4 linked regions of the Homo sapiens genome follow. The protein of the gene in region 1 interacts with the protein of each later gene in a pairwise test. Each region holds a gene or a part of one and is shown in the gene's direction. Other genes may lie near its edges.

Region 1 (3,500 bases):
TAGAAGTGAATAGGAGGTAAGCTGACCACATGCCCATTTCTGTGGGAGGCAGAGTCAGGAGTGTCTCAGACAGAGGCAACACAAAGCCCCCGCCAGCGTGGAACTTCCTCTCATCAGGGAGGCAAGAGCGATGGCAGGTGTGCACCTCTGGAGATCGTAACAACAAAAGATACAGTGAAGCCTTGAAAATGTGTGGTTCGGTATCTATTATAAGCATCACAGGAATTCTAAGTGGGAATAACACTAAACATACTTGGATTAATGCACAAGGCCCTGAGATAGAGGACAGGCGTCTGGTAGACCTAGAAGGGCACGCAAACATATGAAACACATAGGAACACAAGTGAGTTCAACAGACAGAGCCAAGTTATCTTGCTGCAAACATTAAAAGGTGGCCAACCTCTCCCAATACACAGGTCAGACTAAAAAGATGGTTTACTCTTTTAAAAGTTTTCTTGTGTCATTCTTTCTGGATACATCGGCTTCACTTGTTATGCCCAGACATGGCAAAACTAATGACCAAGTAATGAGGGAATAGTAATGGAAAGACTTGGGAGCAGTCCATCATCACAGCTTAACTTTTTGCTCACAACCGTGTTTTTAATACTCTGGTATCTGCTGTGCGTTTGTGTATATCTAAGATGACCAGGCAGCCTTAAACATCTAGTTGCGTTCATATTCTCTGTAAAATCGCTCCTTGTTCCTGGAAGGACATGAATGGGCTCTTGTGGAATTATGGCCGGTGGGCCCGCTGACTCCCTGCCTGCCCGGGCTCTCCCTCCCCCAGACCAGAACGAGTGCATCATTGCCAACCCGGCCTTCGTGGTCTACTCCTCCATCGTCTCCTTCTACGTGCCCTTCATTGTCACCCTGCTGGTCTACATCAAGATCTACATTGTCCTCCGCAGACGCCGCAAGCGAGTCAACACCAAACGCAGCAGCCGAGCTTTCAGGGCCCACCTGAGGGCTCCACTAAAGGTCTCAAGACACCCCCCAACCAACTCCAAGGGTCCCCACCTAACCATTACCAAGAGGGCTCATCTTATGCTCAGGTGGGGGCTTGGGAAACCTCAGCAAGGGTTAGGTCTAGGCTAAAGGAATTCCCAGGAGCCGGGCAAGGGCAGATTTTGAAGGCATGGACCTCAGTGGAGCAATCTGAGTCTCCAGGAGAGGGAGGCAGGGTCCATGACACTAAATAACAAGGGGAAGTCTTTGCTTGGAGATCTTTGTGACTGAAGGCGGCAACTCTTGCTTGGTACCCCCGTGGGCTCCTCTCTTCCTCTTTTCTGGTTTCTCTGTCTCACTTTAGCTCCCTCTGACTCCTCCATCCTCTTTCCTTTACCTTCCGTACTCTCTGTCCTCCCCTCCAAACACACATCACTTTTCCTGACTTCCTCTCCACTATGTCTCTCCTGTGCTTCTCTTTCATTTCCCCCCTGATGTCTTGTGAATTCTCCCCTTCACTCAGTCCTTCACAAGGAAGACAGTGTGTGGGCACAGAAGGAACAAGAGCTCTTGGGCTAGACGCATCAGGTTCAGATCCTGTCACTGACACTTTTTTTGCTGAGTGACCTTAGGCAAGTTGCTTACCTTCTATGAGCCTGTTTCCTCATCTGTTAAATGGGAATCAAAATACCAGCCTCACAGGGTGGTCTTGAGGATTCCACGTGAGAAGGGACGTGAGTGTGCCTAGCACAGTGCCAGGCCCTTAGCAGGTGCTCCATAAAAAACCAGGTCCTTGTGTTCCTCGTCATACCCACCACTTTTTGTCTCATTCCAGCCTTCCCCCTTGCCCCAACTGCCTCCTCTGGCCCCCACCCTCCTGATCTCTGAGCCCTTCTGCCCAGTCTGAGTTCCATGGACTGCTGCACTTTGGGTTTCTGTCCCCCCTCCATCCCCACCACTTTGTGTGACCCATGTGCTGGCTCACTCCACAGGGCAACTGTACTCACCCCGAGGACATGAAACTCTGCACCGTTATCATGAAGTCTAATGGGAGTTTCCCAGTGAACAGGCGGAGAGTGGTAAGTGCTCAGGCCAGGGACCCAGAGCCAGGTCTTTCTGCCCCTAGGGAAGCCCACTGGCCATGGTTCTGAGACCTCAGAAGCTGGCCAATGGGAGAAGCACCCCAGAAACCCCCACCTTGCCTCAGCTGAAGGCAGACTCACCGTGCACACCTCCAAGCAGGCATGAAGTGAGACACCTCGGTTCTGCAAGGCATGGATGTGTACGAGAAAATGGTTGGCCATACCAACGTAATAAAAATGATAATAATGGCTATTCACATTTCTCAAACATCTACCATATCCCTATTATCTCATCAAATCCTCACCACGACCCCGGGAGGTAAGTCTCTTTGATCGAACCGATCTTCAGTTGACAGAAGAGGAAACAGGCTCAGAAAGATTAGGCAACTCACCCGTCTCAAGAGTTGGTGACACTAAGCCCAGACCTGTGTGACTCTGAAATCCACACCTGTGTTCTTTCCACTGACATGAGCTGCCTTATGGATGGGCAGGTTCTGGGGTAGGACGCAGCAGAGCAGCTGCGGGGACTGGTGGCGGAGCAGTTTGTGTACATAGAGCCCTCAGGTGCGGAAGCACAGCAGACCCCAGCCTCTGCCAGGTGGTAGCTGTACCAACATGCAAGCAGCAGGCATTCCATCCTCCAGAGGGATGGAGAACAGGGCCAGAGAACCCACAGAGGGCCGCATACAAAATCCAGGTCTGGTGTCCTGCCTTCACCTGCACTGCAAGGGCAGGACTCTAAGAAGCTGTTTATGAGGCAGGTGCCAAAACAGAGCCTCAGAGTCAGGGCCAAGGCAGCAGCCCAGTCATGCCACCTAGGCACATAGTGAGGCTGCACTTTAGAAGTTCAGACTAACACCTCCAAGGCCTCAAACAAGAGAACCTATGGAAGAACCCAGGAGGCCATGAGTGGATCCATGCCAGGGCTCTCTAGGTCACCCCAGCAGGGAAGATGTGGGGCCCCAGGGGTCAGCCTTTTGGCACCTAGATTAGTCTATCCAGGAGAATATGGAGCCCACGTGTGTACGCAGGTGCAGGTACCCATGAAGTGGGAGCACTGGGCCCCTTGTTTGACAGGGAGAACAGGGGTGGGCACCCTCTTTGCAGTCGGAACATGAGTTTCTGGAGGCAGGGCCAAACATCATCAGCTCTTGACCCCAGCAGCCACTGTGGCACCTGGCACTTTGCTAACAGTAAGTGTTGCTCAGGCCATGAGAGACAAGTCCCTGGTATTCAGCCCTGGCAGAACAGAAGTGGGGTATTGAGGCTGCATGAGGATTGCCATGGGAAAAAGGACAGGGGCAATCCTGCAGGGGCTGCCATGGGTCCTGGGTCCCATGCCTCAGTGACATCCTTGCCTCCCTGGCAGGGTGACCCTGTGGTGTTTGCAGGAGTCTTCAGAGGGGGAAAGGGAGGGGCCAGTGAGATGGGTGGCTGATGCCTGGGAACTTGTCCGGCTTTACCCAGAGCCCT
Region 2 (4,059 bases), on another chromosome or scaffold:
AGCCCCTGGCCCCCATCCCACCCAGACCCCTGTGCTTTAGCACTAAGCAAACTATAGTGTGCTAGCCAGCCCTTCCCTGCTGATGCTGATGCTATAGTAACAGCATCTTTTCTATGTGTTCATCTTCCAAAAGCCTGTGACCCCAATATACTCTACACTCCTCAAAAGATTCTTGGAAAGAGACTCATATGCCTTAGGGACAAGGCAGCAGAAATGACACAAGTCCTGAATGAGCATCTCCTGTCTGGGGTGATGAGGGAAGGTGGGAGAACTGCTAGTGTCACCCAGGATCCACAAGGCCCATGGGGACCTCTGGTCCAGAAACGGCAACTTGCTATCCAGAGTTCAGGAAGTAGCTTGCAGCTTCTGTTGCCCAGGCTGGAGCACAGTAGCACAATCTCAACTCACTGCAGCCTCGACGTCCTGGGCTCAAGCAATCCTCCCACATCAGCCTCCCAAGTAGCTGGGACAAATGACCAAGGCTTGTCTTTGCTTTAAACCTGGCCTTGTGAGATGTCCCATGCAACTACCTAGTCTTTGGTAGGTGCACACCATCATGCCTGGCTAATTTTTGTATTTTTTGTAGAGACAGGGTTTCACCATGTTGGCCAGGCTGGTCTTGAACTCCTGACCTCAGGTGATCCACCCGCCTCGGCCTCCCAAAGTGTTGGGGTTACAGGTGTAAGACACCGCGCCAGGCTGCAGCTTCTTATACATGCACCTTGCTGAATTAGAAGTAGGAGCTCAATAGGGGAGGGAGCCTAATGAATCAAGGCTGTATTTCCAGGGAGCTTGAGACTTGATGTTAGGCTTACACACACGCACACACACACACACACACACGCCTTTCCAGTGGGCTGGCTGGGCCTCTTCTCCTCACTGCCAAGTTGCAAAGTTGTGTGGTCACCTCCCCCCCCCACACACACCAGCTTCCCGCCAGCCTGTGCCCTCAGCCCTCGCCTCCCTGAGCCAGGACAAAGCCCCGGCAGTGACTGGGAGGGGAACAGGAGGAGGGACAGAGGGATGGGAAAGCCTGCACAAAGGAATTCCTCACCCCAAGCCCCCTGACCGCCAGCGAGTAAAGAAGCAGATTTGCTCTCCCTCCCGCTTCCTCCCTCCCATCTTCCCACCCGGGCTGTGCCCAGGCCACAGAGCAGCTGCAGGCCTTGGGAGAGGACCCACACAGCCTCCTGTAGGTGGCAACAGTGCCACCTGTTTGACTCATAGGGCTGAACCGAGGACTGAAAAAGGGAGGAGGCAGACCACTCGGAGAGGAGCTGGGAAGCAGTGCAGAGAGGAGAGCGGAGCGGAGCTGCCGCTGAGCAAAGGTGTGAGGGTTCGGGAAGGCTGGGGGGCTACAGGTGGGAGCTGTGGAGCAGAGACCAGCTCCATCCCACTGGGATTGGGCCGGGGGATTGAATGGCACCCCTGTCAGCAACCCTACTTGGGGTTTTCAGGCTGCTCAGACCCTGATCCCATCCTACAGGCAGCTCCTGAAGGGAGGGGACTCTGGAAGGCAGTGTCTGGGGTGCAGGGGTAGGACCCCAGGGGAGGCAAGAGCTTAGAGCAGGCTATCAAACCAGCTCCAAGATGGGCAGAGGCAAGGGCTTCCCTTTGGGTTGGCTTTTTACCGGGAAGGGTCTCGTAGAGGGGAGGGGTTTCCTTCCCCCAGCTCCAGCTCCTCACCCCTACCCTAACCCTCCTTTCCCAAGGCAGCATAAAGAGGGCAGTTCAGAAGCAGCCACACCTTCCTGCTTACCGGACCCACCCACTGTGCACCCCTCTAAGACTCCATAGCCTCGGGAGAGCTCTGAGGACAAGAGGTCCTGTCCCTCAGCCCGCACGCACACATGCTCACACACTTTGGGTGTATCCAGGGGCTCCTTTACATACTCAAAGTCACCTAAAATCATATTGTACCGACAGCCAGTTGTGCTGTCGCGTGCAAATGCTGACACAAATCACATACCGTCTCGCGTAGAATCAGTCACGTACCCAGCCAAGTCTGGGGATCAGCTCAGTCAGCCAAACCCAGAAGCATAAGGTACAGGGGTCCCCTGCCCCAAGACAACCACACCCCGCATACACACCTTTGCCCTGCGTTTGTTGTACTTTCACCAAAGCTAACTTAGAGGGTGGGGCTCCTAAAGGCGAGTCTGGGCTTCTGGTTGGGGTTGGGGGATGACTGGGCAGGAAAGGGCAGGACTTGAGGGGAGGCTCTGTATTTTGAAAATCCAAAGATTCCTTTAGAAGACTGGGAGTGACCCAGGCAACATGTTCACCTCAAGTCTTTCTCTTTTTGGCAGTGCCCTTTGTCCCCTGAGAGGTGGACACAGAGAATCTTTCAGGGATTTGTGATCTGAATAATCTCTATAACCATAGCAACTGGCCAACTAGCTGGGCCTTCCTTAGCCCCAGGTCAGAACTGTAACCTTTGCTTCAGGTTACTCCTGCTTCCTGGGCTGGAAAGCAATTCAACATGGGGTTGCCTCCAGCTTGGCCAAACCTGCTTTAACTTGCTGAACTGAGTTTGTCCCACCCTGGGCAGTTTCTCTTGAGTTCTTACCCCCAGGGCAAGCACTCCATCCCCAGAGGTGTGTGCTGTTAAATGGGGAGGAGCTGGAGAGAGTGGATATGAATCCTGCCCGAAAAGAGGCTGGACCTCTTGGGTGTCCCACTGACTCTCCAGGTAACAAGATTAAAGGGAAACGAAGGCTCTGGAGACTGTCTCCCATTGCCAGGCTTGCAGCTGGGGCTGCTCGCCTCATCCACTCTGGCACTCTGGGCCTGCCCCGTGACCTCCGTTGCTGAGCAGCGGCCCAGGCCTCTGCCTCTCCCCCGGGCTCCTCAGATACACTAGGAGGGAGACTGGGATCTGCCCTCTGCCAGGGTCCCTGATGGTCGAGTGTCCCTTCCCCCAGGCCTTCACCATGGCCGAGTCCCCCGGCTGCTGCTCCGTCTGGGCCCGCTGCCTCCACTGCCTGTATAGCTGCCACTGGAGGAAATGCCCCAGAGAGAGGATGCAAACCAGCAAGGTGGAGTAGGGATGGAGGGGGGAGGCTGGAAGTCAGAAGGCAGAGGCTCACTGGAGGGGATAAGGAGGCCAATTGTGCTCATAGACAGCTTGGGGGAAGGGGCTCTCTCTCCCAGGAAGAAAATCTCCCTCAAATATGGAAAGAGCTGCCCCCCGAGCAGAGCAGCCCAACACGGGGCAGGCAGCTCCCTTTAGCTGCCACCCGTTGGGGACTCTGAGTTTGAAGTAGGTATTGGTTGTGAGTTTCTCTCCTGCCCCTTTGCAGTGCGACTGTATCTGGTTTGGCCTGCTCTTCCTCACCTTCCTCCTTTCCCTGAGCTGGCTGTACATCGGGCTCGTCCTTCTCAATGACCTGCACAACTTCAATGAGTGTGTCATGGATTCCCCCTGCTTCCCCAGCATACCTGTCAACCTGCTCCCCACCCTGGGACCCGGGGGTGGCCCACTGTCAGTCATCCCCCAGCCCTGCCCAGCTGCTCAAACCCAGCTCTGCTGCTACCCAATCTCCTTAGAAAATCCCTCCACAAAATCTCCTCAATCCTTGGAGCCCCTGGCCACGAGGGGCTTTCTCCTCACTCCCTTCTAGTCTTCCTGGATCCACCCACCCCACCTCCCCTCAGGCCACTATTGACACCCCTTCCCCCACTTGGACACCTCCCTCTCCCCTCCCACAGATTCCTCTTCCGCCGCTGGGGACACTGGATGGACTGGTCCCTGGCATTCCTGCTGGTCATCTCTCTACTGGTCACATATGCATCCTTGCTATTGGTGGGTCCGGAGGCCGCTGGCCTAACCCCACCTCAGCCTTCCTTCCTGCTTAGTTTTAGCTCCCTATTCTCATCCTGGCCACTGAGGGAGGGGGCTAATTCTTGGGTAGGAGGGAAGTACCAGCCTGGGAAGCCCACCTCAGTAACCTTGCTCCCCTCTTGGCACCCCATAAGTCCCACTGCTCTCTTCCTCTAGGTCCTGGCCCTGCTCCTGCGGCTTTGTAGACAGCCCCTGCATCTGCACAGCCTCCACAAGGT
Region 3 (3,500 bases), on another chromosome or scaffold:
CATTGATTCTAACATGTGTGGGACAGAATTGGCAATTGATATGTCAGTTTCTTCCTTAAAACAATAACAATATGTTCTCCCCTTTTAAATTTTCTCTAGGCCATACTGGAGATGTTACTATTCAAACACAGATGCAGTCATTTATGTAGTAGACAGTTGTGACCGAGACCGAATTGGCATTTCCAAATCAGAGTTAGTTGCCATGTTGGAGGTAAGAAAACGTAACCACTTTAAAATGTGGGGCAGTCATTTACATATTATTACATTGAAGAATAATTAAAAAGAATGCAGGGGTTGTTCCCTCCATCCTTTTAAAATTATTTTCTTTTATGGAAATGATTTTCTATTCCAAAAATACAGTTGAGGAGGGTTGGAGACAAAACAACAACAAAAATTAACCTCGTAACTTCCTCTTCAAGCCAGATTGCTTGATTTTCCAGGAGGTTCAGAAGAGCTCACTTAAACAAAAGCATCTATTCTAAGTCACTTCTTTGATGTGACTTTTAAAATATGTCTTTTTATTTTTAGCTGTTTTAGAAGGATTCAAGTTCAGAGAAATATGTATTTCTGGGTTACTGGCACAATGCTGGCCTCACGTTTATCGTTTTTTATCCTTCCCAGTGTTTACAGTGCTTTTGACCTTCTTTCTGTTCTTTGGACACGAGCTTGCACACCTGGCTCAGGGCCTTTTGCACTTGCTGATCCGTCTGCTTGGAATACTATTCTCCAGCATCTTTGCATGGCTGCCTTCCTGACGTGTTTCTTCCCACATCTCTTCCCCAGAAAGAAGTCTTATTTATTCTCTAATCCTTTACCCTTCTTTATTCTTTATACCGATATTGTTTCTTTTTTTTCTTTTTCTTTTTCTTTTTTTTTTCTTTTTTTTTGTAGAGACGGGGTCTACCTATGGTGCCCAGGCTGGTCCCAAACTCCTGTCCTCAAGTGATCCTCCTGCCTCGGCCTCCTAGTGTTGGGATTACAGGTGTGAGCCATTGCACCCCACTTACTGTTTTTTTACATTATTTTTAAATGTATTTGTTGGCTGGGCGTGGTGGCTCACGCCTGTAATCCCAGCACTTTGGGAGGCCGAGGCGGGCAGGTCACCAGAGATCATCAGGAGTTTGAGACCAGCCTGTCCAACATGGTGAAACCTCATCTCTACTGAAAATACAAGAAAATTAACCGGGCATGGTGGTGTGTGCCTGTAGTCCCAGCTACTTGGGAGGCTAAGGCAGGAGAGTCACTTGAACCCAGGAGGCAGAGGTTGCAGTGAGCCGAGATCGTGCCCCTGCACTACAGCCTGGGTGACAAGAGTGAGACTCTGTCTCAAAAAATAAAAATTAAAAAAAAATATATTTGTTTACTTATGTATCTCTCCCTCTAAAATGTAAGTTCTTTGAGTTTACCCTGATAGGAGGAACAATGTATAGTACTTAATTAAGAATTCAATACATCTTATTCACTGAAGTTAATAAGATCATATATTGGCTAACTGATCAAATTCAGAGGATGCATTAAATAATCCATTTTTAAAAAATGAAAAAATAATCAAATGTACTATGATAATAATAAAATTGCCCTTGCTCTGGAAAATTAGATGGATAAGTTTCTTTCTCTTGTCAAAAACTGGATTCTGAATTGTTTAATCAAGGGATGTTTAAATATAAGTTCTAGGCCAGTTGATACCTAGGTAAAAGCATCCTCAGACGAGGGGACTATGTACTTTTGAATTCTTTTTTTTTTTTTTTTTTTTTTTTTTTTTTAGACAGAGTCTTGCTCTGTCGCCCAGGCTGGAGTGAGTGGCGTGATCTCCACTCACTACAATTTTCGCCTCCTGGGTTCAAGCGATTCTTCTGTTTCAGCCTTCTGAGTAGCTGGGACTATAGGCTTCTGCCACCACACCCGGCTTATTTTTGTATTTGTAGCAGAGATGGGGTTTCACCATGTTGGCCAGGCTGGTCTCGAACTCCTGACCTCAGCAGTTTGCCCGCCTCCTGATCTGCCAGCCTTGGCCTCCCAAAGTACTGGGATTACAGGCATGAGCCACCGCGCTCAGCCCAGGACTTTTGATTTCTTGAACTACTGACTTAATGGCTTCCAAGTTATAAATTGCAGACTTAATAGTTTTAAACATTTGGTTAATTTTTTTTTTTTTACATCATAGCATTATATTTATTATAAGAGCTTCTTAGACCAAATTTAAATGTAAGGATAAGGTTTAATTGCCTTGGGTATAATAGGTTTTTTAAAGAACAGTTTTATTTAGGTATAATTCACATGATATAGTGTATTTTTATCATATAAAGTATTGCTTAAAAGGAATGGATTATTGACTTCAGTTTACAATTTTTGAGTTGTGCAGGATTGTTGTTACTTGCAGTGTTAGGATTTGACTTATAAAGTCTTACAGAGAAAGAAGTAAAAGTTGGATTCTTTCTTTAGGAAGTCACTTTTAATTCATCAATAAATATCATGTTATGTTAAGTATGGGCCAAGTACGAGTCAGGACTGTTAATGTTAAAACATATAGACACAGGCCAGGTGTGGTGGCTCACGCCTGTAATCCCAGCACTTTGGGAGGCCGAGGCAGGTGGATCACTTCAGGTCAGGAGTTTGAGACCAGCCTGGCCACCCATATCTACTAAAAATACAAAAATGAGCCGGGTGTAGTAGCGCACGCCTGTAATCCCAGCTACACGGGAGGCTGAGGCAGGAGAGTCACTTGAACCCAGGAGGCGGAGGTTGCAGTGAGCTGAGATAGTGCCACTGCACTCCAACCTGAGTGATGGAGTGAGACTCCATCTCAAAACAAACAAACAAAAAATATATAGTATAGACACAAAAGCAGTTTAGGTTTCAACTTTTTTTTTTTTTTTGAGACGGAGTTTCACTATTGTTGCCCAGGCTGGAGTGCAGTGGTGCAATCTCGGCTCACTGCAGCCTCCACCTGCCAGGTTCAAGCAATTCTCCTGCCTCAGCCTCCTGAGTAGCTGGGATTGCAAGCGCACACCACCACACCCGGCTAATTTTTGTAATTTTAGTAGAGACGGGGTTTCACCATGTTGGTCAGGCTGGTCTTGAACTCCTGACCTGGTGATCCACCCACCTCAGCCTCCCAAAGTGCTGGGATTACAGATGTGAGCCACCGTGCCTGGCCTTTCAACTTTCCTATACACAAAAATGAATTCTAAATGGGTAAATAATTAAATGTAAAAAATGAAAATTATAAGAACATATAAGGAATTCAAAAGATGAGATTTAATTATATTAATGTAAACAAAACTCCCCCAAAGCTCAGATATGGCAAATATAAACAAGATTAAGATAAGAAACCAGGCCTAACCAGAAGCCAATGACTAAGGATTAGTGATCTGAATCATAGCAAGATCTTTTGCAAAATGAGCAAAAGGCAATTCGTAGGGGAAAAACATTGCTAATAACATTTGCATTTGTTTTTAAAGAGACAGGGTCAGCAGGGCGCGGTGGCTTATGCCTGTAAT
Region 4 (3,500 bases), on another chromosome or scaffold:
CCAGGCTTTCTCGGTTATGCATTCAAAAGATGGAGCTACCCAGGGCCTGCCTTCCTCAGTGGCACAGAAAGTATACCCTCCAACCCCCACTGTTTGTCTTCCTCATCTGAGTCCCAGCTAATCCCTGGAGACACCTTAGTCGGCCGCCTTAGTAGGCCGCCCACGCTACCTGGGCAGAGGGGCCCGAGCCTGGAGTCAGGGAGGCTGGTGGGTGTGGAGTCCCAGGAACCACCACCAAGCCCCGCACATCCCTCCTAAGGAGGCCTGGCTGGGCCCTCTCTGCTCCGTGTGTGTAGCCGAAGGTGTCTGCGGAGGGTGCTGAGCAAGGCACATCCCACCCCATCCCGCTGGGGCTGGCATTGCTGGCGGGTTCTGTAAGACACAACCCCCACGGGTTGGCCTCATCTGAGTGGCCTTGGCAGAGTCCACTCTGCTTCTTGAAGCCTCAGTTTCCCCTTTGTAAAGTAAAGATCGAGGCATTCAGAGTCATGTCAGGGTGGTAGGGGGCAGAATGGGAGGGTCCTGGGACCTGAATCGGCAGCCTCGGCGGGGGCCTGTCCACCCCTCCCCCAGGTCCTCCCCACACGGCCGCTCACAATGCCTCGGTGGACATGTGCGAGCTCAAAAGGGACCTCCAGCTGCTCAGCCAGTTCCTGAAGCATCCCCAGAAGGCCTCAAGGAGGCCCTCGGCTGCCCCCGCCAGCCAGTAAGTTTGGCACCTGGGGCTGTGAGGGGAGGCAGGAAGGCATCAGAGATCTGGACCTGGGCAGGGTGGGACCTGGAGTAGGGGCTACTGCGAGGCCTTCCCTGGGACTGGAATGCTTCTTTGATTTCTCTTTCTGCCTTCTGGGAGTCAACACATGCCCCCCAGGCTGAGCCCTCTCCTGTCTGAGTCAGTAACCAACATCACATCCACCATCCCAAGCCCTCCTCCCCCTCATAAAGAAAGGATGGGTGGTCCACAGTACAGCCCAGCAGACCAAGGCTCAGAGACGGCAGAGCCGCTCCAAGGCCACAGAGTAGGTTGGCACAGGCGGAGCTGGGCCCAAACCCATGGTGCTGAGTCCCAGGACAGCCCCCACCACACCATTGCTCTCCTTTCCCTTGGCTCCCAGGTCCTGGCCTCCTCTGTCTGACCCTACCCCAGCTCATTCTTTCTCTCCCACACGCAGATGCCTGCTTTTCTCTTTTGTCTGCTCTCCACTCTCTCTTGCCCACCCCACCCCTCTCTCTGCCTCTGCCTCTGCCTCTGCCTCTTCCCTGTGTCTCTGTCTGAGTCTCTCGTCCTCCTGCCTCAGTCTCCCTGGTGGCCCGGCCCCCTCCCCACCATCACCACCGCTTTCTCCTCCCTGCCAGGCAGTTGCAGAGCCTGGAGTCGAAACTGACCTCTGTGAGATTCATGGGGGACATGGTGTCCTTCGAGGAGGACCGGATCAACGCCACGGTGTGGAAGCTCCAGCCCACAGCCGGCCTCCAGGACCTGCACATCCACTCCCGGCAGGAGGTCAGGGGCAGGCCTGGGCAGGAAGCAGATGCGGGTTGGGCCGGGGCCAGATGGAGGTGGGGGCTGTGAGCACTCCCTGAAGCTCAGTGCCGTCGCAGCCTCTCCCTGGGGCCTCCCGAGAAGGTTCCAGGCCCGAGGATAGCCATCCTAAGTCAGTAGTTCAACCGTGGGATTGAGGACCCTGTGTGGGCACAGTGGCAGGGTCTGCTTCCTATACCAGTCTCCTGGGGCCACCCGTGTGAACAGAAGACCAGCCCCTAAACGCCTGTCCACGCACCCCCCCCCCCCGTTTTTTTTTTTTCGAGACAGGGTCTTGCTTTGTCACCCAGACTGGAGTACAGTGGGGTAATCATGTCTCACTGCAGCCTCAAACTCCTGGTCTCAAGCGATTCTCCCACTTCAGCCTGTGAGCAGCTGGGACTGCAGGCTTGCTACCACACCTGGCTTTAAAAAATTCTTTGCAAGGCTAGGTGCAGTGGCTCACATCTGTAATCCCAGCATTTTGGGAGGCCGAGGCAGGCAGATCACTTGAGGTCAGGAGTTCGAGACCAGCCTGGCCAACATGGTGAAACCCTGTCTCTACTAAAAATATAAAAATTAGCCGGGCATGGTAGTACATGCCTGTAATTCCAGCTACTCGGGAGGTTGAGGCAGGAGAATCGCTTGAACCCGGGAGGCGGAGGTTGCAGTGAGCTGAGATTGTGCCACTACACTCCAGCCTGGGCAACAGAGCGAGACTCTGTCTCAAAAAACATTTTTTTATTTTTGTAAAGACAAGGTCTTGCTACGTTGTCCAGGTTGGTCTTGACCTCCGGGGTTCAAGCAGTCCTCTCGCCCTGGCCTCTCAAAGTGCTGGGATTACAGGCGTGAGCCACTGCACCCAGCCACACACCCCATCTTGAGACTGCCCCCTGAGTGGCTCTGGTTAGCTGGGAACCACCCACACTGCCCACATGGCCACCCCCAAGTTGGCTGCTGTAGGCAGAGCTGGCATCTGAAGCCCCAGACAACAGAACATCATGTGGTTCTCCCAGGGCTATTTGCCCTGGAGTCCTGGATTCTAACCACAAGACTCCCCAGCCAGAGCTGGTAGCAGGGAAGGGAGGGATGAGGAGGGCTGTCATGAGTCAGGCTTGACTTCCTGAAGAAATGGGCTTAGAAGTGGCAGCGTCCAGGAACGGATGGGTGTGTGTGTGTGTGTGCTAGGGTGGGGGGCACGGATCTAGGGGTCCGCATTTGGCTGAGCCCTAAAGGGACCTCTGCAGGAGGAGCAGAGCGAGATCATGGAGTACTCGGTGCTGCTGCCTCGAACACTCTTCCAGAGGACGAAAGGCCGGAGCGGGGAGGCTGAGAAGAGACTCCTCCTGGTGGACTTCAGCAGCCAAGCCCTGTTCCAGGTATGGGGTCCTCACCCTCATGCCTCCCAGGAGAAAGCAGTTTTTTTCTGACAGAGGTGGAAAGAAGGCACGCAGATGAGCTCCTTCCTCTGGGAGTCAAAGCCTTTCCTTGTAAAGTTACAAATTGCACTGCAATGTGCAAATCTCCCTGTGAGAGGGCTAAGCAATGTTCTTCTTACTATAGTGTAAATGACTACATGGGCAAAAGTGGTTCCAGAGGGAGACGCAGCATCTCAAGGCAATGTGCTGGGAGAGGGTTATCTAGAGAGGGTAAGGGGCTTCTGGGCCCTTCTTCTCAGTCCTGAACTCCCTCCCTACTCTCTTCCTCCAACCCCATGTATCTAGGACAAGAATTCCAGCCAAGTCCTGGGTGAGAAGGTCTTGGGGATTGTGGTACAGAACACCAAAGTAGCCAACCTCACGGAGCCCGTGGTGCTCACTTTCCAGCACCAGCTACAGCCGGTGAGTGGGGGCCAGCCATCAAGAGAACAAGCGCCCCTCGGCCATGTCACCCTTTCCTCTCCCTCCCTCCAGACTCATTTGTCTTTATAATGAAACGATTGCCTGATCGAGCAGTCAGGTCCAAATGGGGCGGGTGG

The links. The genes of interacting proteins can lie anywhere in the genome.
Region 2: the proteins of DRD2 (region 1) and GDPD2 interact in a two-hybrid assay, tested with the Homo sapiens proteins (one large-scale study listed by BioGRID and IntAct).
Region 3: the proteins of DRD2 (region 1) and ARL1 interact in a two-hybrid assay, tested with the Homo sapiens proteins (one large-scale study listed by BioGRID and IntAct).
Region 4: the proteins of DRD2 (region 1) and ADGRG1 interact in a two-hybrid assay, tested with the Homo sapiens proteins (one large-scale study listed by BioGRID and IntAct).

The regions. Positions count from the first base shown.
Region 1 is NC_000011.10:113,412,899-113,416,398, reverse strand, and holds part of DRD2 (D(2) dopamine receptor), read left to right. Parts: intron 1-787; coding exon 788-978; intron 979-1,937; coding exon 1,938-2,024; intron 2,025-3,500. UniProt on the Homo sapiens protein: Dopamine receptor whose activity is mediated by G proteins which inhibit adenylyl cyclase. Positively regulates postnatal regression of retinal hyaloid vessels via suppression of VEGFR2/KDR activity, downstream of OPN5.
Region 2 is NC_000023.11:70,422,055-70,426,113, forward strand, and holds the start of GDPD2 (glycerophosphoinositol inositolphosphodiesterase GDPD2), read left to right. Parts: upstream 1-1,259; 5' UTR 1,260-1,328; intron 1,329-2,921; 5' UTR 2,922-2,930; coding exon 2,931-3,035; intron 3,036-3,299; coding exon 3,300-3,403; intron 3,404-3,708; coding exon 3,709-3,802; intron 3,803-3,997; coding exon 3,998-4,057; intron 4,058-4,059. UniProt on the Homo sapiens protein: Has glycerophosphoinositol inositolphosphodiesterase activity and specifically hydrolyzes glycerophosphoinositol, with no activity for other substrates such as glycerophosphoinositol 4-phosphate, glycerophosphocholine, glycerophosphoethanolamine, and glycerophosphoserine.
Region 3 is NC_000012.12:101,397,773-101,401,272, reverse strand, and holds part of ARL1 (ADP-ribosylation factor-like protein 1), read left to right. Parts: intron 1-99; coding exon 100-211; intron 212-3,500. UniProt on the Homo sapiens protein: GTP-binding protein that recruits several effectors, such as golgins, arfaptins and Arf-GEFs to the trans-Golgi network, and modulates their functions at the Golgi complex.
Region 4 is NC_000016.10:57,652,630-57,656,129, forward strand, and holds part of ADGRG1 (adhesion G-protein coupled receptor G1 isoform b precursor), read left to right. Parts: intron 1-573; coding exon 574-706; intron 707-1,356; coding exon 1,357-1,504; intron 1,505-2,769; coding exon 2,770-2,901; intron 2,902-3,246; coding exon 3,247-3,363; intron 3,364-3,500. UniProt on the Homo sapiens protein: Adhesion G-protein coupled receptor (aGPCR) for steroid hormone 17alpha-hydroxypregnenolone (17-OH), which is involved in cell adhesion and cell-cell interactions.